Linked DNA regions of Homo sapiens. The protein of the gene in region 2 interacts with the protein of the main gene of each other region in a pairwise test. Each region holds a gene or a part of one and is shown on either strand. Other genes may lie near its edges.

Evidence for each region.
Region 1: the proteins of STK16 (region 2) and MEOX2 interact in binary tests that used the Homo sapiens proteins (3 or more experiments, as listed by UniProt).
Region 3: the proteins of STK16 (region 2) and ZNF330 interact in binary tests that used the Homo sapiens proteins (3 or more experiments, as listed by UniProt).

What each region holds. Positions count from the first base shown.
Region 1 is NC_000007.14:15,675,632-15,684,172, forward strand, and holds part of MEOX2 (homeobox protein MOX-2), read right to left. Parts: intron 6,350-8,541; exon of another isoform or gene 3,283-6,349; intron 2,017-3,282; exon of another isoform or gene 1,832-2,016; intron 530-1,831; exon of another isoform or gene 389-529; intron 1-388. UniProt on the Homo sapiens protein: Mesodermal transcription factor that plays a key role in somitogenesis and somitogenesis and limb muscle differentiation. Required during limb development for normal appendicular muscle formation and for the normal regulation of myogenic genes.
Region 2 is NC_000002.12:219,240,193-219,249,291, forward strand, and holds the start of STK16 (serine/threonine-protein kinase 16), read left to right. Parts: upstream 1-5,286; 5' UTR 5,287-5,604; intron 5,605-5,703; 5' UTR 5,704-5,807; coding exon 5,808-5,893; intron 5,894-6,464; coding exon 6,465-6,684; intron 6,685-6,920; coding exon 6,921-7,054; intron 7,055-7,222; coding exon 7,223-7,343; intron 7,344-7,469; coding exon 7,470-7,565; intron 7,566-8,000; coding exon 8,001-8,122; intron 8,123-8,228; coding exon 8,229-8,367; 3' UTR 8,368-9,099. Other genes in the region: GLB1L (beta-galactosidase-1-like protein isoform 1 precursor), read right to left, coding at 1-93, 2,322-2,382, 2,576-2,726, 2,956-3,122, 3,310-3,381. UniProt on the Homo sapiens protein: Membrane-associated protein kinase that phosphorylates on serine and threonine residues. In vitro substrates include DRG1, ENO1 and EIF4EBP1. Also autophosphorylates. May be involved in secretory vesicle trafficking or intracellular signaling.
Region 3 is NC_000004.12:141,230,406-141,236,249, reverse strand, and holds the end of ZNF330 (zinc finger protein 330), read right to left. Parts: intron 4,812-5,844; coding exon 4,765-4,811; intron 3,726-4,764; coding exon 3,608-3,725; intron 2,536-3,607; coding exon 2,261-2,535; 3' UTR 1,553-2,260; downstream 1-1,552.

The DNA.
Region 1 (8,541 bases), on a different chromosome or scaffold from region 2:
TGAACTGGGTAGTGCCTTGAGGCTCTTCTAGTGTCTTGATTATTTTGATTCTAATCATCTGTTTAAATATTACAGGTTACAATTCATTAAGAAAACTTTGACAAATCAAGCCTCCTCTAAAATCAAAGAGTCAACGCACTGGTTGATGCCGTTGGACCCTTCTTGTCCCTGCTGTGTATTATCGGACATTTAATATTTTGCTCTTCTTCCTGTACTCTTCTACCTACATCCTCCCAGTTCTTCTATTATCTAACAGAGAAACACTCTCTGTTCCTTTAAACTTCTCTTGTTTTAGGGATCAAATTGCTATGGATCTGAAAATGCTTAAAAAGTTAACTCTGCATTTGTGATTTTAATATAATGCTTGATTCTATTATTTATTCAAAAGGCACTGTAGAAGTCTCGCATATATGATCATTTAAAATTTCGCTGAAGTCATGTCTGAATTCTGCACACTGCCTTATGGATGTGGGAGAGGTGACTAAACTGAGTCAACGCAGTCAACCACCCAGGACTTGCAATTCCAGGGGTTTGTTGTTCTCTTTTATCTCTATCTAAGTGATATTTCTCAATAACGTATTAAATATGCAAATGTGAACAAACAAATAATTAAAATATGTTCTTTGTAAAAAGAAATTATATCACCAAAATAAAATTCTGTTCATGCATTTTGTGTGGGACATACATGTTTTCAGCTTTTAGTAATATTTGCACATTTGCCATTCCTAAGGGTCTGCAACTGGAACTGCTAAAAATAACAGAGCAACAATAAGAAAATTCTCTCTGCAATAAAGTTTCTAACATAGCAGGAAAATGTCATTCCCACCCTCCTAGTTAACAGCTAAAACAGAGACCCAAAATTTCATTGTCATATTTGAATTCCTTTTATTTAAATTCTGTTTCCTCTTGACTAAATGCCCTGCCCCTCTGTACACTCCTTTTAAAAAGTTAAGTTCTGGCCGGGCGCGGTGGCTCACACCTGTAATCCCAGCACTTTGAGAGGCCGAGGTGGGCAGATCACTTGAGGTAGGTAGTTCGAGACCAGCCTGGCCAACATGGTGAAACCGCGTCTCTACTAAAAATATAAAAATTAGCGGGCGCCTGTAGTCCCAGCTACTCAGGAGGCTGAGGCAGGAGAATCACTTGAACCCGGACAGCAGAGGTTGCAGTGAGTCAAGATTGCGCCACTGCACTCCAGCCTGGGCAACAGAACAAAACTCGGTCTCAAAAAAAAAAAAAGAGTCCTCATTTTATTCTTTATTTTGCTCAATATGCACTCTTCCTGAAAACAGCTTTTCAATGGAGAAGTAGCAGGAGACCCAAGAGAAGAGGAAGTTAGGAGAGGTCCAAGTAAAAGAGGCTGTGGAATGGAAATCTTAAGGGTGGGAAAGGCAACTTGAGCCTCTTACATAACTTGGCTAGAATTCACCTTACATTTCAGGGAAATTTCATGCCGTTTACAATTCTAAGGACAATGATTATTTTAAATCTTTAGTAATTACTTAGGCAAGTTACATTTCCTATAGCAGTATTTGTAATAAAATGCAAACAGGTAGCATAAAATAGATTATTTTCAGATGGTGCATATGCATTACATAATTGTACATTCATTGATAGATGATAAAAATAATAACTGACACTTTACTAAGCCAGACATTGTTCTAATTGCTTTGTGTATATTAACTCAATTTCCTTTTCAGAAACGATGGTAGAGAAAAGTTAAATTTGTGGCCAAGAGGTGACAATAGTAAGAGACACAGCGGGGGTTTAGCCCTAACTATTGTGTTCTCCCAGATATGCTTGCCTCATTTCTTCTTCGGTTGACTCTTAGGGTTGCATCCACCTAACCCTCCGGGGTTCTGGCTTCGGATAGTGTTTGATCAATGGAAGCAACAAAAGAAGATTGGAGGACATGAAGACAGGTTACTGGATGATATTCGACATGAGCTGCAATCCTCCATCTGAGGTCCCAACTTTTCCAGAAGGCTTCTGTCCTGTTGCGCTCATTGGATTCTGGTAAGAGGTCCCTGCATTTACCCTCTCAGGTTAGGGGTGCTAATATATTCCAACTGTGGACAGACCCTGGGGGATTCATCATTTCCTGTGGTTTCCCTACATTCTACTCACCATCAAATTGCCATCATCAAACTCTCTTCAATTATCCCTTTGAGTGTGACATCTATTTCCTTGTCTAATATGATAATTAAGAAATAGGATAAATCTTTTATGATTTATCAACTAATGGCTAAATATGCAAAAGTGTTGCCACTTACTTATACTTTCCTAAACATCTGGGTATTCTAGAAAATAAATTATACAGCTCTACTTCCAGGAGCAAAGAATAGTTCTGGAGGAAAAATTATTTATAATTCCCTGAATTTTGAGTGTGGACATTCACAAGACTGTAATCTTAGAAACATGGGTGGCAGCAAGCCTCCAAATAGGGATGCCTAAACTCTGACTTTCCTGTCATTTTAATATGTCTCAATCATTTTTACATCTACATTCTGTCTAGTTTAATGCATCCAGATCTGTTTATACTTCAAATAAGAAAAAGAAATTCCCACGTAAGCATAGCCTATAGGTGAGAAAATTTTAATTGTTAAAGGCACTACACATACTAAGACCTCATTTTATCTTTGAATAATATTAAATAAGACATCACTTGATTCCAACCTATGCAGTGAGTGCTAAAGCATTATTTATATGGTTCTTTAAATGTGAAAGTTATTTGCTAAATTGCTGTTGTTCTACAAAACCAAGCTAGTCCCCATTACGTTTCGGATAACACATATTTATTTTTCTGAATAGTTTCCTGTTTGTGTTACCTACCAACATAAATCAATGATTTGCAAAATTTGCTTTGCATTCATTGTTAATTTGATAAGAGGCATGCCCATTTAATCTTTTCAACTAATAAGAATACACCTCAGTTTAGTTTGCTAGTTTTTTGGGTGGCTAAGAATAACCATCCAAATGTTTACTGTGCAGTCCAGACAGTGGACAAGCTACCTCAACAGACTCTGAATATATTTCACTACTGCATTTGCAAATAACTATCACTTTGCAAAAATAAGTTTTCATTTGGGTGTCATTTCTGGCAAAAATTTAAGGCTATATTTTCAAAGAGTAAAATTCTAGGCCTTTAAAATTCTACTGGCATCTGCCAACCTAAGCTGGACCCTCCTCTAGGTTTTGCGGAGCCTGACAGATGATTTCACCTTAGTCATTTTCTTGCCCACAGTCACGTAAGATAACTGCGAATTTGTTTTTTCCTTGTAGCATTATGGGATTCTCTTGAAGTGTGTGAAGAATAATGAGCTAAATAAAGAGGAAAAACAAAAGAAAACAAAAACTGCAGGGACTTTTATAACTATCATTGATTGCCAGCTTAAGCCTGCTGGACTCTTCACAAAACTATATATGCTTCAAGCTTAATATTTAATTTTGTAATTGGAACATTTATAATCATATTATGCATTTAATAAGGATGCTCTAATTCAGATTTACTATTATCAGGAAATTAAATTTGGAGTTACAGTAATGCATGCATATATATGTGTGGGTGTGAGTGTGCATATACCTATATATGTATATACATATATAAAGTAAACGCCTTCTTTTAACGTGTGTTTTAAGTATAGCTTCCATGTCCTAGTTAATTCAGCACCCTCCCTTTTATCCTTTCCTTGCCATTGTCCTCTCTACTAGACTACAATAAAAACAAAAAACTATGAAAGTAAGCAGCTTATAATCATAATTTTAATCAATGTAGCCTATGCAAGCTTTAAGAAACATACGTCTAACATCTTAGAAAGAAAGCTTATGAACACAAACAGCAGAATACTTAAATACATTTGAAACATTCACATTGAATTGATTCTACAAAATTTTGAAGAGCAACAGCTTTTGAATTTAGAGCTATAATCAGTACCCTAAAGTTTTTACCACTGAGTTACTACCTAGTAAAAATATGTTATATTTGCAATAAAAGTACACATTGTAAGGACATAAGAATTGTCATCAAGGTACACAAACATTTTAGAATTATTAAACATTTAAATAAATGGAAATTTTAAAAATAAAATAACAATATTATCATACAAGTTAATGATCCAGTTTATTAATTTCTAATTCTATTGATAAAACAAGGGATTATTTTTGAAAGGGTTTTTCTATCTTTCATACAAACCCTTTCCAAAAATGTATAGATACAGTACGGATTCTACCTGATCATTCTTGTGCATATGGTGATGTAAGAAACCAAAAAAATGTAAATTATTTTCATAACACTGTGAAAACCAATATTTAAAAATACAGTGCACAATTAGTAGTGAGTAACATATATAAATTTAGAAATATTATATTTCTGTACACAAAGTAACATTATAAATGAAAGCTTCAGGAATAATGAGCTACTTATTATTCCGGAAATTATATATCAAAAATTTCAAATATAGAGGAAAATTAAAAACCCACTCATGACCCATGAAAATTAATAACCCATTCGATCATACACTTACCATGTAACTTTCTGTTAATTTGGTAATAAATAATGTCAAGAGATTTTAAATGAAAATACTTATTCTGAAACATAAAAACAACATCTGAGATGAGCACAAATGGATCAATAGATACATTATTGATTATTTTGTATCATAAAATACTATCTAGTACAACATTCTTTAAAAAATTCAATATTTTTATAATGTAAGTAAAACGGGAAGAACTGTTAGAGAAATGGGCATCAGATTTAGATTAATTCTGCCTCTAACGCAAATTGTAGGCTGAGCCCTATATGTTCTTGACCATTCTAAGTTTTACTACATTAAAACACATAAAATATTCTGCGAGGTTTTCTCCAATGGGATTTTGAATCTCACTGATGACTGTGATTTAGGAGTAATGTAGAGAGTTTTGCAACTAACTTTACTTTACACCGTTACTCCTTTTCTACTTGGGGGTTCAGTTCAACACGCTAGTAAAAGAAATAGTCATGAGAGCATCCTAAGGAAAGTAGGCAAAATGTTAGTGCCTCATTATATTTACAATCTTTACAAAACATGTATGTCAGTAAACCATATTAACATCTAAAGCACATGATATGTAGAAACAAATTGTGACTACAAAATGTGTCTTGTTTCTTAAATATGCTAAATAGGAAATAAATCACATCTACTTCAATTTTTAATCTGTGGACTTTGGCCTTAGTTTGTGTTTTATTTTATTTTTTTGCTTTTGATTTTAACCACTGAAATCATTTACCAATACTATAAGCCAGGAAATACAATGTAACTGGCCAGTTGAGAATTAAGCCTTCTCTTTTTATTATTACAATCAAGGGGGGAAATGCTTATATATCTTCCTGCACAAAATGTTTCATTTATCAAAAAAAAAAGTGAGAAAAATAAAGAAAATTTGGGTGAGATAAATAATCCACAACTATTAATTCAACAGATATTATTTAAGAAATTCCTACCTGTAATTTATTTTCTAATATTTCTGCATCCTTAGTATTTATCGCTCAAAGATATTTGCAGCCCTCATAGCAGTGCTTGGAAAAGAGATTTGCTCTGAAAATTTAGAAATAAATTCCTGAGGTGAATACAGTTCAAAACTAAAATATATTGCTGTATTATATTGGTTTTTCTCATTTGAAATTAAAATCTAAAAAACCTTCATATTAGGTTGTGTGTGTCAAGCTGCCATTATAAAAACACTAAATGAATAAAATTTCGCAAGCAAGGCAGCATTATCAGGCTAAGTACATGTAGTGGGCTTATATATGGTGATGTTTTACATAATTCAGCTATTAATTCATCTATAGATTTACATTTCTTAAGTGCAAAAAAAAATGTAATTATTTCATTACATATGGAATTCACCTCCCAAATTTCTCAGAATCTAAGAGAAAGGATTGACATTTTCTGATATTTCATTTTTGCTTAAAATTAAGTTCTTAGGATGTTTAGATTTTATTATAAATATTACAACTTAAATTCCAGAGTTATAATGAACGGTCTATGTTTTGAAACACAGAGGGAGAATGGGGTAATGACTGAAGTACTGTTTTTTCAGTTTATTAGTAAAGATCAGCTTATAAGATGTCATTGTAAAGGTTTCTATTGATAATTACCATAAACAAAGATTAAAACTTTAAATACTAAGTTCTGGATTTCTAAGCCCGGTGAAAGTTTGTGCAATACCATGCCTTGCATTTATGATTTTTCTTTTAAAATGAACTATAAATGAAGAAATTTACACAGAATTGGAAACTATTCCTACTTTTATTTGCATTCTTCCTTCCATTCATTGCTAATGTTCAACAATAAAGCATTTTAATTCTAAAGGAATTGTTGCTTTTAACTTGAGTGTGATTATTTTAGATCACATTTTAGAGCCCTCATGTAGGTCAATGATACTTAGAATTTTTTATGTCAGATTACCATTTTTAAATGTTCACACCTAAAATTAGTCTACCAGTCCAAGATAAAGAATGGAAGTTTTTTTTTGTACTCCATTTGATTTGTTCAATACTTCACTTTAATCTTCAAGATCCAGTATATTATTTTTTAAATTCTAAAGCAAATGCTGAAAAGCCACAATCCAGTAACACAGAAATGAATAATAACACTAATTTATTCCTTTCAGAAAACACAATGATTGAAATATCTTGGAAATATTACAATATCATACTGAATGAGGTTGATAAGGTATTACTCTGAGTTTAAGTTCCAACTTATTAAATGTAATATTTGCTAGTCATTCTGCATAGTCAAGCATATAGACAGACATAATTTGACAGCAAAGGTTTTATGACATAGTAGCTATAAATAAAATATTTGTAATTTTACAAGAATCTAATATGATTCAAAACCTAGTAAAGTCTACCTCCCCAAATCGCTCTTTTCTTTTTTGATGTAATTTCTATTTTTTATAAAATATGTATCATAAATTTGAATAGAAAATATCTAGATATGTACACTGTATAACCATGCACAAAAGCTAAAGTTCGATCAATGAATTAATTTTAGTTATTTTAACTAAAACTGGGCAGTTTATTCCTACTACTAGATTGCTCAAAGAGCAACCAAATGTAATTGAAGCCAAGCAATTCACACTATTTATAGACATTTTTCAGAATCACCTGCTTTGTAGTGATTTTTTTCAGCAGTTGTAAAGTTTTGATTTTTAAGAGTCCCTTTGAAGACGTGGCAGATGTTGGCTTTGCTAATAATGCTGGAAAGCGTAGCAGGTTCAAAGTTACAAAAATGTTTAACACATATAAAATATAATGGTGTGTTTTTCTATTAAATTTGGTTATTTTCAATTGTCAATAAACTTACATAAAGGAAGCCTAAAGTCCATAAATATTTGCTTCCAAAACATGAAGCTGCTAGAGTTTGCATATGTGTGTGTCCATGTGCATTTGTGGAGGGAAAGTGCATAAAATATATGCTAGAGAAGCTTACGTATTATAGTTTTAAATCGTTACTATGAATAAAATTGTAAGGTTTATAAATATTTAAGCTGTTTTTCAATACTTTCTGGTGCTTAAAATTCTATTAGAATTTAACACGGTAATTAGAATTAGCACATACACATACAGTCTAAGTATTAGATGCAGGGATACAGAATTTTGGTCCTGACTTTACCCTGGATTTATGTACTGAATTTTCTCTCAACCATAAATGCAAAGTAATTATAAACTACCTAACAAAATACAAATGATCTCACTATATAGGATGACATTTTTATCTAATACAATTTTAAATTTCAGGAGTTCCGAAATCACTTCAATTTTATATTTTAGAAATATTGAAATACTAAAATGTGCTATAAGCAATGAGAGATATACGTATTAATAGCATACCAGGATCATAATCATTTTCAATATTGTTTTAGTTTGTGCTAGATCAAGATGTCTATGAAATAAAATATCTTTGAAGATAATTTATGGAACACCTAATGCAATTGTTACACGAGAAAGATATCTTTAATTTAAATCTATCTCAATATCTGACAAATATACCTTCAGCTGAAATTGGCAAATAAAATTTTATTTTCAATAAGTGTACATAGATTTAAACAGAAACTATTGTGATTTTCCTTTTAGTCAATATTTCTTCAACATATCAAAGGAAAGAAAAGCTCATTCTAAATCCCCAGTATTTTTATCCTTGGTGATGACTAATTGTACTTTCCACTGAAGTTTTAATCTGTTAATAATTTATGTAGCTGACACAAACACTTATATTTGCTTGTTTTTCCAGTACCCTCATTATCAGCTTCAAAATGTAGAAATGAATTTAATTTTGTTAAATGGTTATTTCCCACTAAGTTGGGGGGGAGAGATAAATTAGTTTTGTTAAATTATTCCATTTTTTAAAAAAATTATTAAAATAAATTAAGGGAATCAGTTATTGAATTCCGTTTTCTCAGTTTTCCCCAAACAAAATAACATGTGCTTGTATGAAAATTGTTTGCCCTGAGAAACTTAAGGGCAATGGCTCAGTTCAGGAAGCATGAAGAACAATCTAT
Region 2 (9,099 bases):
GAATGCTAATGATGTTGCCCCCATTGTGATAAAGCCATGGATATATCTTGGGCAGCAAGACCTTGAACCAGGAGTCCACTGCGGCAAGGAAGTCTAAAGGAAGGAGCAGAGCTTCTGTGTTAGGTGCTACCATCACACTTGCTCACCACTAAATATGGGAAGCAATGACTCTTGTCAAGAAATTCCCAACCCTAAGCACCTTGTATATTTGCACGCCAATGAAATTTGAACATAGGAAACCTTAAAATAGTGTTTCTTAAAAACAAATGGGCCGGGCGTGGCGGCTCACGCCTGTAATCCCAGCACTTTGGGAGGCGGAGGCAGGCAGATCACGAGGTCAAGAGATTGAGACCATCCTGGCCAACATGGTGAAACACTGTCTCTACTAAAAATACAAAAAAATTAGCTGGGCATGGTGGCGGGTGCCTGTAATCCCAGCTACTCAGGAGGCTGAGACAGGAGAATCGCTTGAACCCGGGAGGCAGAGGTTGCAGTGAGCCGAGACTGCACCACTGCACTCCAGCCTGGGCAACAAGAGCAAAACTCCATCTCAAAACAAACAAACAAAAATGGTGGTATATGGGGAGACTAAAATATAGAGGGGATGGCCGGGTGTGGTGGCTCACGCCTGTAATCCCAGCACTTTCTGAGGCCAAGGCAGGGGTGGATGACCTGAGGTCAGGAGTTTGAGACCCTCATGGCCAACATGGCAAAAACCTGTCTCTACTAAAAATACAAAAAATTAGCCGGGCAAGGTGGTAGGTGCCTGCAATCCCAATTACTCGGGAGGCTGAGGCAGGAGAATCACTTGAACCCAATCGGAGGTTGCAGTGAGCCAAGGTCACGTGACTGCACTCCAGCCTGGGCAACAGAGCAAGACTCCGTCTCAAAAAAAAATAACAATTATGCCGGGTGCGGCGGCTCACACCTGTAATCCCAGCACTTTGGGAGGCCAAGGCTGGCAGATCACGAGGTCAGGAGATCGAGACCATCCTGGCTAACACAGTGAAACCCCATCTCTACTAAAAATACAAAAAATAGCCGGGTGTGTTGGTGGGCACCTGTAGTCCCAGCTACTCAGGAGGCTGAGGCAGGAGAATGGCGTGAACCTGGGAGGTGGAGCTTGCAGTGAGCCGAGATTGCGCCACTGCACTCCAGCCTGGGTGATAGAGCGAGACTCCATCTCAAAAATAAAACAAAATAAAAATAATATATATATATGTGTGTGTGTGTGTGTGTGTGTGTGTGTGTATATATATATATATATATATATACATACATATATATGTATGTATAGAGAGAGCGAGAGAGAGACCAGGAAGGCCTCACCAAGGTGACTTCTGCAGGAGGCTTGTGATGAAGGAGCACCACATGCAAAGGCCTCAAAGCCCAAGGCCTGGTGGGTCTGAAGAACAGCAATGAGGCCACTGTGGCTGGAGCAGAGTGAACATGGGGGAGAAGAGCAATAATGTCGAGGAGGTGACTGGGGCCAATTGTGTAGGACCTACCACTTTAAGGAATTTATGGTTCATATTCTGAATGAGATGAGAACCTACTAGAGAGGTTTAAGCAGAGAAATGACAAGATCTGAGATGTATCTTTAAACTTATACTTGAACAGGATCACACTGGCTACTCTACTGAGAACAGATTGTATGGGGGAGAGGGCAAACAAGGGAAACCAGTTAGGAAGCTATAAAATAAGCCAGCTGAGAGAGATGGTTTGGACCAGGGTGGGGGCAATGGGGGTGATAAAAAGCACTTAAATTTAATGTTTGTCAAGATACAGCTGATAGGATTTTCTCTTTTTTGAGACAAAGTCTCTTCAATCTGTCACCCAGGCTGGAGTGTAGTTGTTCAATCTCGGCTCACTGCAACCTCTGACCCCCGGGCCCAAGTGATTCTCCTGCATCAGCCTCCCAAGTAGCTGGGATTACAGGTGCCCACCACCTCGCCCAGCCAATTTTTTGTATTTTTAGTAGAGATGGGATTTTGCCATGTTGGCCAGGTGGGTCTCAAACTCCTGACCTCAGGTCATGCACCCGCCTGGGCCTCTGAAAGTGCTGGGATCACAGGCATGAGCCACCGCGCCCAGCTGTTTTTTTTTTTTTTAATCAGTTTCTTCCACTATATTATAAGCTTTACGGCACAAGGATGGGGGTCTGTCTGGTCCCCCAGTTTCTAGCATCCTGCTGGGCATGAAGGAAACACTTGGTAAATGAATGATGACCTCCAATTTGGGAATGGTCTCTTCTGCTTTTGGCACCCAAATAGCCCATTTTACTTACTTGCTTCTGTGTTAAATCCTTTGTCTCAACTCACCTGGATCTGAGGTTCTTAGATGAATTTCAGGTTTTCGAAGCAACCAGGATGGGAGACCCCCCTGAGACAAACATAAAGAGAACAAAGAAGCATGTAGGTTTTGTTTTGGGGTGTGGTGGGGAAGCTAGGAAGGGAAGGAAGGAAGGGAAGGAATTGAATATAGTGCTGGAGATGGCCCTAGAGTGTGGGCAGATGGGAGTAGTCTAGGAACTGCACAAGGATAACTGGTTCTATCCCTTCTCCAGCTAACTCACCATCTCCCACTCTGCACAGATGTAAGGTCCTGGTCTCAGTATGACCAACAGGTTCGCTAGAGCTGCCTCATTCAGAAAGGCAATGAGGTCCCGGCTGCCATTAAAGTTATAGACCCCAGGCTGTGGCTCGTGGTAGTTCCAGGGCACATAACTGAGAAAGGAAGAGGTTAATAGGAACCAAGGTGAAGAGACGCCAGGGAGGCCTAACGGCTCAGGCCTTGCAGGGAATCTCCAGGAAGCGGTTGGAAGGAGGTCCTGGCCTGCCCTTTCCCACCCTTGGCCTAGGAGTCCTGGCAGTCTTCCTGTCCCGACCTTCTTTATAAGGGGGCGGTAGAAAAAGTAGATCCCATCCCTCCGCGGCTCTTGCGAGCACTTCTTACAACTGTATGGCGTTGAGGCCGCTCCATCGCATCTTCAAAAGCCGGTCGGCCCAAAGCACCCGCGGTACCCGAAAGTAGTGCAGGCTGCCAGACACATAGCGGAACGGGGCCCCGTCTAGGAGAAACCGGTCATGACCCCTATCCACTACGAACGACCGAGTGTCTGCCTATAAAGAGAAAGAGACGCTGCTCAGCAGACGCCTGGAGGGAGCGTCGAGGGTCAGCGCCTGCCAAGAGCGGAAGAGATGGAACTAGCCCTGCGGGTTGTTTGGTTGTTACTTTGGACTTTCTCTCATCCGCTGGATCTGATCCCGCTCACCGCACCCGGCAGGCTGGTTCACCGTCTCATCTTACCTGGGGCAGCAGTAGCGTCAGGCTGAGCGGCAGCAGCAGGGAACGAAGGCAGGACAGCTTCTTGGGAGCCATGGCGTTTACAGCGCTCCTCTAGTCTGAGACGGCGGACAGACCGTCACGTGTCGGATTCCTGGGAGGGAACCTCAGCGAGCAAGGGGGCGGAAACCACCTCAAGTTGCCAGGCGTTTAGCCTGGACTTCCTCTCCAGCCTGCAGCCACCCCCTTACTCTACTAGTTTGTAAAATTTCTACATCATGTTAAAGTGCAGTTCACGAACCAGCTTCATCGACATCACCTGGGAACTTGTTAGAAATGGAGAATCTGGCTGGGCACGATGGCTCACGCCTGTAATCCCAACACTTTGGGAGGCCGAGGCGGGTGGATCACTTGAGGTCAGGAGTTCAAGACCAGCTTGGCCAACAGGGCAAAACCCTGTCTCTACTAAAAATACAAAAATTAGCCGGGCCTGGTGGCACGCGCCTGTATTCCAAGCTACTCCGAGGGTGGGGGTGGGGGTGGGGGTGGGGGTGGGGGTAGGGGCTGAGGCAGGAGAATTGCTTGAACCCGGAAGGCGGAGGTTGCAGTGAACCGAGATCCTGCCACTGCACTCCAGCCTGGGCAACAGAGCGAGACTCTGTCTCAAAAAACACAAACAAACAAACAAAAGAAATGTAAAATCTCAGATCCTACCTCAGACCTATAGAATCAGAATTTGTATTTTAACAAGATTCCCAGGTGATCCTAGGCACCTTCAAAATTGAGAAGCATGGCTTTACTTGACTGGGCTCCCTGAGGACAGGGAGTGCCCTGTTCATCTCAAATCCTCAGCCTCTAGCACAGGGCCGGGTATATAGTAGGTTAAATCTGGATGAATCAATGTCATAACCAAAAGGCTAAAACAGGTTCAGAACCAGGGGAAACCATTGGAAAATCTTCAGGGTGATCCGGGGTGTGGAAGGGAGGAACCAGGTCACAAGAAGGACCTCTTTCCTGGAGAGTCCTGTTTCAGCAAAACAGCCATTCCCTCCTGGCCATTCCACCTTCTTTGGAAGTGCACCCCTCTCCAGCTTACCCCTGCCTGCCTCCGCAACAGATATTAAGGACAACTGCTTTGTGCCAAAGCTCGAAAATCTGTGAATTTCCGTTCCTTTTGCCTTTACAGTCTCAAGAATGGGATGTGAAGATCAGGGTAATAATAATTACGGTTTATTGACACGTACTGAAGGCTATGTGTCAGATATTGTATTAAACACTGTACATCTCATTTAATCTTCAACTCCATGAGGTAGATAATTATTTCCATTTTACAGAGGAGGAGAGGAAAGGACAGAAACATTAAGTAGCCTGTCCAAGGTCACACAACTACGTTAACGGAGCTGTCATTTGAACTAGTCAGTCTGGCCTCACAGTTAAGCTACTTAACCTTATGTACTATTATACCTATTTTACAGCTACCAAAAGTAAGGATCCGAGAGGTTAAGTAACTTGCCCGAGGTTACACAGCTAGCATGCTATTAACACTCAATTTAGAAACTGGAAGTCTGGTTCACAAGCCTGAGCTCTTAACCACTGAGACTAGGGGTAGTGGGATACAGGCCAGAGCCCAGAAGGTTGTACGGGATCAGGAGACCAGGCCACCAGACCCGCCCCTCACTGGATCCCCCTCCAGGCTGCAGTGTAGTTGGCCGCTTTCTGCCCCAGAGCGCCAGAGGTATGAAGCCTCCTACCTCCAACATTGGGAGATGGAGGTCCTGGGGGCCTCGGGCCGAGCCCGGCTTTGCTCCCCTTTGGCGTAGGTGCCTGCGTCTTGACCCCCACCGAAGGCCAAGTAGAGAACCCTCACCAGGGTCCTGGGACCCGTCCACCCCTACACCTAGCTAGCCCGGAGCCTCTCAGCTCCGCGTCCCCACATCCTCCGGATGCCCAGCGGTTGCTGAGATACCGCGGGCCGTTACGCCGGCGCGGACTGATGATGTCAGCACTGCTTCCGGTCGGTGGCGCTTCTCTCTGGCCCGAGCCAGGTCAGTCCGGCAGTGCAGATGGCCCATCCCGGGCTCTGGGCTCCTAGACCGGGGTGGGCCCTGCCAGGAGTGGGCCTGAGCCTCGCACGTCCTCTGAAACTACGCTATGCTCTGCTTTTGCGGCGCGATGGGCGTGGGAGCGGGGGCTGCCCAAAGATGGGCTGGGGTTGGAGGAAGTGGCCCGGTAGCCGCTGTGTGTCCTGAGGCCGTAAGGCGCCTGACCCCACCCCTGAAGCTGGCGACGGAGCAGGGCCTGTTTTCTCTACACTATAGTGTAGGTTCCAGAGACCTGGGCCTGAGCTCTCCGCATTGGTACTTCATGGGTCGTCTGGATTGTGCCGGACCTGTGACCCTGCCGTTGTTTTCTTTCCAGCATGATCCGCTGGGCCCCCAGCGCATCTCCTGGAAGAGCCCACTCACCCTGGACGAGCTCTTCGGTAGCCTCAGACCGTCCTTGAAGAGGATGACTGAGACATTATGGGCCACGCGCTGTGTGTCTGCTCTCGGGGAACTGTCATCATTGACAATAAGCGCTACCTCTTCATCCAGAAACTGGGGGAGGGGTGAGTGTTTGGAAGTCAGTTAACTAGTCCTCAAGTTTATGATCATTGAAGGACAGCGGTGTGCATATGCTTGGGGCACAAGGGTTTTATCCCTATCCCTGTCCTCTCTCACCTGACAGAACCTAGCTACACAGTATCAAGAAGGTGGATTCTGGAGCCAGGCCTGCTAAATCCACCTCGTGTGACCTTGATAAACCATGTTTTTTTCATCAGCTTAATGGAGATGATTATTATCCCTCACTGATGGAGTTGTGAGGATTAAATGAGATAATGTGTATAAAATGTCTCACCCAATGCGGGGTTGACAAGTACTTGATAAGTGTTGGCTATTATTTATTTAGCATCTGTCAAGTGCAGAGGTCTCTATTACGACCATAGGACCTCAAAGATTTCTATATCTCTGCTCCTGAGGAGCTCACGGTGTAATATTCTTCAGATTTCTCTTAGAGCCACATCTTGGGAAGGTTTCTGCTAAATGGGAAGGACACCCCACTCCCCACCAGGAAATTTCTCTAGGTCCAAGCCATGTGGGAGATGACCATGGCCCTTTATTGACCCCTTTGGCCCACAGTGGGTTCAGCTATGTGGACCTAGTGGAAGGGTTACATGATGGACACTTCTACGCCCTGAAGCGAATCCTGTGTCACGAGCAGCAGGACCGGGAGGAGGCCCAGCGAGAAGCCGACATGCATCGCCTCTTCAATCACCCCAACATCCTTCGCCTCGTGGCTTACTGTCTGAGGGAACGGGGTGCTAAGCATGAGGCCTGGCTGCTGCTACCATTCTTCAAGGTCAGAAAGACTCCTGGTTATGGAGGGGGTTGCAGCAGAGCCACCTACTCAAGGGCTGTGTGAGCAGTCCAGCATGTTAGGAAGCAGGGACCATGTCCTGGGTTTGGCCACTTTAGATTTTGAGTTTGAGGTGTGTATCATGAAAGGGCTGATAGGCTTTGACATAGGGAAGGGATCAGGCCTAAGGAGCAGAGGCTCCAAAAACATCTCCAACTGTAGGGAAACTTGTGTTGCAGAGAGGTACGCTGTGGAATGAGATAGAAAGGCTGAAGGACAAAGGCAACTTCCTGACCGAGGATCAAATCCTTTGGCTGCTGCTGGGGATCTGCAGAGGCCTTGAGGCCATTCATGCCAAGGGTTATGCCCACAGGTCAGTGGGAGGACCCTGTGTGCTTGCTGGGGCCCAGAGGAAGAGCCTCACCAGGAGACATGGGAGGTCTCTGTTCTCCCAAGAAACAGCCTGTATGATTCTTTTGCTTGCTGGGATTCCAGCCTTCCTGTCCAGAGATGCTCATAGGTCACTTCTACTTCTCTACAGAGACTTGAAGCCCACCAATATATTGCTTGGAGATGAGGGGCAGCCAGTTTTAATGGACTTGGGTTCCATGAATCAAGCATGCATCCATGTGGAGGGCTCCCGCCAGGCTCTGACCCTGCAGGTAAAAGAGTCTCCAGGTTCCTTTTCTCACCTGTTCCCCATTCCCACCCCTTCTGGTGCATGTCCCAGTTTGGTCACATGACCATGACCTGTGCCCCACTTTTGAGCTCTGGGATCACTGTTCCAGGACTGGGCAGCCCAGCGGTGCACCATCTCCTACCGAGCCCCAGAGCTCTTCTCTGTGCAGAGTCACTGTGTCATCGATGAGCGGACTGATGTCTGGGTGAGGAGCATGTGGGTGGGTATCTGGGTAGGGAGGGCTGTGGCTCTGTACCCACCGTGGAGTAGAGTAGGTTGTTGGTTTCTGTTGCATGGGGCGCCAGGAACCACAATATGTCCCCATCCACTTCAACTTCCTTCCTGGGAAATGTCACTGATACTGTACCCAGTTGTACCGGATGTGGTATAATCTGTGCCCCTGAACAAGGTGAGTACAGCTCAGTGTCAGTAGTGAAGGCACTGGCTAAGCAGGGGCTAAGCTAAACAGGGGCTGCGGAGGCCTCCAGCTGACTGGCAGTTTCTCTGGACCCTGGTGGTGCCATGTGGCTGAGGTCAGCGTATTCTTTTTAGCTTATGGAGTCTCCTTTTACCACAGAAGTAAAGGGAGAGATGTCACCTCCACTGGTCCCCTTCTAGGGACTAATCAAGTTATGCTCAGTCCCTAGGCTGCGTGCTATATGCCATGATGTTTGGGGAAGGCCCTTATGACATGGTGTTCCAAAAGGGTGACAGTGTGGCCCTTGCTGTGCAGAACCAACTCAGCATCCCACAAAGCCCCAGGTGAGTGAGCAACGAATAGGGCATCAAGTGTTTCAGACTCCCCCCTGGTATTAGCTGAGTTGACAGATAGGTGTCATCCGGTCACCCTGGGCTCCTCCCTCCACAGGCATTCTTCAGCATTGCGGCAGCTCCTGAACTCGATGATGACCGTGGACCCGCATCAGCGTCCTCACATTCCTCTCCTCCTCAGTCAGCTGGAGGCGCTTCAGCCCCCAGCTCCTGGCCAACATACTACCCAAATCTGAAAAAGCAGCATGTTGAGAAGATGGCCCCTTGTGCCTTGGAAAGAGGTTCCCATCCCTCATTGGAATCACCACCCATTCCATCCAGGACTTCTCTTACACTTGGGGGTAGCGGGGTCAGGACAATCATCTCAGTCCTGCATCTTTTCTTCTGCTTTCTTCCCTCCAAGAGCAAAACCTGGGCAAGGGGACTTACTGAGTGGGGGTGGGTGGGGGTTGGGAAAAGGGAAACTGGTGGGATATGGAACATGGCTCTGAGCAGGACTGTTGAGCTCACATAGTGTTCTGACTCCAAATCTGGGAGCAGGAGAATGTGTAAACAAGAATAAAGTGGAAGCAGGTTGGTGTAGATCTTAGTCTCAGTGTTCCTGGAGTGAGAGAAGAGGTGCAAGGGGCCCAAAGTCAGGTTGCCATTTCAGGCGAACTGCCTGGGAAGGAGGAATGGTGCAGAGTCGGCAATGGTGTGACTTCATTCTACAGGAGGTTGGTTAGCAGTGGACAGTTCTAGCTTGTCTTAGATCAAAACTTAAAGCTGCTTGGGCTCAAGCTGGCATCTGCCTGTGTCAAGAACTAGGGCCCCCTAAAAACACTCAACTAGTTCTTTCCTTCCTTCACTCCTGGGGTGAGTAGCTTAGTCAAAGCTGCCTAGCCGGTTTGCTAGGCAAGGGCCTCTGGGTGGAGACACCTGAGGAAGCTTTGAGACAGGTAGATTACAGGTCTCCCATCCTCAGCCTA
Region 3 (5,844 bases), on a different chromosome or scaffold from region 2:
CCCTAAAGTGCTGTGTTACATTAGCCTTCTCCATAACTCTTTGCAGGTTAGGACCCCTTGACTACCACTCTCACTTTCTCATTAACTGTAACCCCCTGACTTTTGGCAGTTGGGCACTGCCACTTTAGCCACTATTTTTCAGAATCTTGTCATACATTGCCATCAGCAAGCTGAACTCTGTTTTCTTTTCCTACTGTCTGTATGGCCTACCATGAGCTACCACACGTTTTTAGAGATGCTTATACCCCATCATCAGTGCACATTTCTATGGCACTGTTAAATGGTGTGTCCACTGAGCCTTCCCATGGAACATAATCATCTCATCTTCCAATCCATTCCAGCATACCCAATTCCCTTAACCATTTAAATCCATTCTTCCACCATGTCACAGTAATCCCAGTGTTTCGACTTTGCTCAGAAAGGACCATTACTTTTTCCATATTTCAAGAAGCCATCCTGGTAATGAGTTCGCACCATCTCACAGGATCCTAGCCAGGTTATTAAAACCCTCTAATTTAACTCTTAGCAATCCAAAGATCCAGTGTCAGGGCTGCCATCAAACTCCTCCCTAATTTTATGTTTTGACCCTCTTAAGCACTGATTCCAATCTCAAGCATATTCCTCCAACTCTTCGTAATTCTTGCAGTTCTTTTGGGGCATAGTCTTGTTTCCTCCCACTTCAGTTCCAGCACCTCAACTGAGTTTTGCTTAACTTTATCGTCACTTAACCCTAATTTTAGGCCTGGAGATACTAACTATAATGGCCTAGAGATAGGGCAAGTCTTGAAGAGAGCATGTTTCCCGAGGAAAGAAGCCTCTGCATTGTCATCCAGCCTGAGAATGAAGTGGGGAGTGCTTGCCCTTAACATGGAGGGGTGGGCTATGACTGCAAACTCAGAAATGCAGGAGTCTGGGGAGTAAAAATCTCCAGCACCATCGATTCAGATGTCTCCATCTAATTTGTCAGGGTCACAGGTTTTCCCAAGCAGTTTGCCGATGCTGGCATAATAGACTTGCCTTGGCTGGCAACTGTCTTTAAATTTTATCCTTTGAAACTATTAAGTCTCGGGCTTGCTCCTCAGTTTTTTCAAGCCGTCCTACTGCAAAAGGTGAAAAGCTTTTTCACATGCCACCAGAGGCCCTCTAACTTTGACACCTGGCTTTCCATTGCCTGTTATTGTCCTTGGCTGTTAAGTATGCTTCTATAGAACAAAAATGGCTTAACAATGGCCATTCAACCCTGTTATCCTCATAGCTACAATTTTCTCCATACATCTAAAATGTGAGGCAATCAGATATTGTCTCTCCTTGTACAACTACCCAATCCCTATTAAATGCCAGTGTTAAGTTGTAACAACTGGGACTTGTGACAGGACTGTCCTCCACCTATCAATGATGGGGTCTGGGCTGCTTATCTTTAAGTGTATACCACACAGTCTCTATTACCTATTTCCATATGTGTGAAAACTGAAGCAGTTTGTAAAAAAATTAGAATGCTTTCCAAAACAAACTGAAAATACAGAACAAAAAATTAAATATAATGTCAAAAGTATTTAAGTGAAATAATAGATTTATTCAAAGAGAAATAAAATGTCCTGGGTAAAGCTTCTGTAATAATACTATTTCTGATACTGTATCTCTGAAAAATGGCTAACTAGTCACCTTATCAATACATTTAAGGCATCAATAATAGGTACCACTGAGGACATACATTGTGAAGAAAGAGAAGAATAAGTCAAATACTAAAACATACTTATCATGACAACTCAAGGTGACATGAATATTTAATGAAAATTTAGAATATAACAACATATGACTCTCATTCTGTGGACATAAAAGGAAAAATACAGTAATTCATTTTACTCATTACATTTTACAAAATCAGCCCAATGAAGCAGTATTTTTTAATAAAAACAGTAATTTAATTTCAAACAAATATATTACCATCCTATTCCTTTATCTTGTATATATGTATCTAATTGGCAAAACATACTTTACTGAAATCAGTAACAATCCAATCCATGATACTTCAATTGCTTCGATCAATAAACATCTTAAATTTGAAACTCATTTTTCTTATGCCATAAGCCTGATTATCAGTTCTATAAAAACGCTACACCCTATTGCTTGGCCCATTAAGTGTAACTAGTCTTCTGCACAAGGCTAAGTGGCTAAGGTACTTTTGAACAACCACACACAATTCATCAAGCACACACACTCACTCCTGCTCCTCTCACACACGGCCACCAGAGCAGCTCCCCTAGTTCTCTTGTTCCTCATAGTGAGCATAGCCACTAGCATAGGTCCTTCCTAAATTCAAATTAGTAAACAAATCTGATGACTCAGTATCTGAATCCTTTCTGCCTTCATCTTCTTCCTCTTCATCATCCTCTGCTTCATACTCATCCTCCTCCTCATCGTGGTAGCTGGTATCACCATACTTATCAGATGAAAGGTTCTTCCAATAAGCATCATACCCAGAAGCTCCATCTCCCTCTTCACCTCCAGTCTGCCTGCCAAATTTCAGGGAGCGTGCTATAGAAGACAGACAAGTACAAGGCATTTTGTTAGTTCCAGTTCTCTACATTCTCATCTTCCTCTATAAAATTTCATGGATTTCATTGGCTGCTTCAATCCCAAATGAAAAAATAGGTCACATTTTCCTAATTTTTTCACCTGAGTCTATATACAACACCATAAAAAATAAAAATTACAGTGTAATTTCATTAAATCTAGAAAACAAATTAGACCAACAGACCACTCCAAAGGTATTAAGGCATGTTTAAAACAAAAATACCTTCCGTTTGGCCACTGACAGTTTATTTTCAAATCACATAAATCACAGAATACAGCTGATTTCGTATCAGTACATTTTTCTTAAGACAGCTATTTTACAATGCAGATGCCCTTAAAAACAAAGCCTGTCATTTCTTCTGCCTTAATAGTGACACAAAGTTCAGTGCAGAAGATCAGCAAAATCATCAGTCTCACCTCACCATGCAACTACATCTGTGATTAAACAAAGCAGTCAGTCACTTAGAATTATGGTTCCATTCTGATATGTTTGGTTAAGAGTCAAACTTCTCTTTAACAAAATTGCGAGCTGCATTACTATAAGCATGCTTATTCCTTCACAAAAAAAGTTACATAAAAACCATAAAATAATTTCCTATAGTAGTGCTATATTACATAAATAAACATAGGTGCTCAAATATCACACACCTAAGATAGCTTCAGAGTGAATTTGACTTCTAGGTACTTAAAATTACCACCACTTTAATATTAAGGAATTATAGCTACTCAACTATTTAACAAGGAAGACTCAACAAAAATAAAAAAAAATCACTCTTTATCTTAAATTTCAGTATTTGCTGTCATTAACTAAGGCAAATACCAAATATCAAAATGAATATTGGTCTATTTAAGTAAAACTGAAAAACTTTACCCACATATTTTCCTAAGCTGTAAAATTCCACTTGCTTAAAAGAACACATTCATCTTTTCAAATAAGAAGAGGCAATAAGAAAAATAGACCAAAAAAAAAAAAGATAAACTTTGTCTAAGTATGAAAGCAAAAATCACTTCCTTAGTATCTTAAGGGCCTTACTTGACATGCTAAGGTCCTTAGTCTCCTGAGTTTCATGCCCACATTTAGGACAAGGAGGCTGTTTTCCTTTTTCTTGCTTAAACACTTTGCTCCTTGTATGATCATCACAGAAACAAGCCTGTATAGGAGAAGCAAAATAAAGTAAATAAATAAAAATGTAAAAATATACAAAAAGACAGTATTCAGTGTTTTAAAGATATAGCTTTATTAAGGCAGTGAGATTAACAATTTTGTTGGGAGCAGTCACACTTCTCATTTCATTTTCTTAACAGAAATGGTTTTTGTCAGGACCCTTCTGAACAATGATCTAACAAAAGGCAGACTATATTGAGTATGACATGTAAGTACATTTAGCTGTTCACAAATATTTCAGTACTCATAAGGTCCCTGATGAAATGAAATAATGGTGAACAGCCTATTTACTCTCACACAGTGTATGGTCTAACTAGGGATGGAGACAGTGAAAAGGCAATTACAAGACACTAAGCACTGAACGGGAAGTGCAGAGGGAAGGGCACTAAAGCAGACATGGGATTTGGGAAAGGCATCTTAGAGACACGAAGTCTTAATAGCCATATGAAGAATGGGAGGGCAATAGGGTAAGCCAAGATGGAAAAGTATTCCAGACAAAGAAAACACAGATAATGCCTGAACACCATTTGGTAAAACTAGAACAGAGTTGGAAGATAAATAAGACATAGGGTTAGGAATATAAGAACTAGAGAAACGCTTCTGAGAGGAAGGGCATTGGCTGCATCTGTTTAGTAATCTTTGACGAACGAATGCTAGAGACTAGGCCTAAGGACACAGAAAAATTTGGAAATCTTTACCCAAACTCTTCTAAGCAGGTATATTTTGACATTAATTAAAATAGACTCTCATCATCTTGGTCAGAATGTTCTCCACTAAAAACACAGAGCCAGGATTCCAGAGAAATGTGCACTAGCCACAGCTCTACTAAAAGGTGACTGGATGACCATTGGAAAGTCATGTAAGCTTTCTCAACTTCAATTCCACAGTCTCAAAAATAAAAGAATTAGACTACATAATTTTAAGGTCCCTTATAAATTAATTATAGCTGCATATAAGCCAAGGACTGGTGGAGGGGTATAGAGATTAAAAACAAAATCTAAAAAGAAAAAAACGCATTGGTATACCTTACAACGGAGACATGAGTGCTGACCAAGCCGATTGCATGAAACACCTGTGGGAAATAGATTAATTTTAAAATCCCGTTATTTGGTTCTTAGAATTTTCTTTTGTCTTTTATCAAATCACTAAAAGCTTGCAATGGAATATAGCCTTATAGACAGCTGCCTGTCTTTTGGGTTCAAATGCTATAAAACACACAAAGCTCCCATGCTGCAAATAAAATAATTAAATTTATTATTATACATTCTGCAAAAGGCGACGAAAGGCTCAAAAATGCTATATACTTCGAGATGCTCTTTTAATCTGAGAATTTTATATATAAATATTGCAAGAATTATATACACATGCATACACATTGTGTGTCTATGTGTGTGTAGTATGTATGTTGTATGTATATCACAGAGATGACTTATCTACTTTAAATTTATAAATAAGTATAATAATTAGGATTTCATACCAGAACAAGAACCAAATTAAAGGAAGAGAATACCTGGGGAATTTCGGTCTTTTTCCTATAATAGTAACTACTATTTAAAAAGGGCTTTTTAAATGCCAAGTACCACATGCTATTGTTTTATATGGTGTCTCATTTCAATGAACCTTCCAAGAAAAAAACTATGTGTAAAGATGATACTATTACCCAGTCAGCAATGCTGGCTCTCAACTGGAAAATACGTGAGAATTTTGTGTATAGGTTAAATACAGGTGCCTGGCACCCACCACGGACTTAAAAGATAGAATCTCCAGGGATGAGGCCTGGACATCTACATTATTTTTAAAACCTCCACAGGTATTTTTGATATACAGTCCTGTCTAAGAATCACTAGAACCAACTAGCAGAAACAAACAGGGTGGTATCTCTTACGGGAGGGCATTTGGAAATGGGAAGGAAGGGTGAGGTTTGGTTTTTTATAATAATTTGAAGGTAAAAATGACATGTGGTACTCTGAACCACGAAAGGTGTAAGTCCTGCAATGCCTGATCAAATCAAGCCTACAAAATGAAAAACTGGCCCAACCAATATGCCACTGGCATCCCTGCTGAAAAATTTACAACTATATTCTGACTGTTCTGTTTTCTAGAAA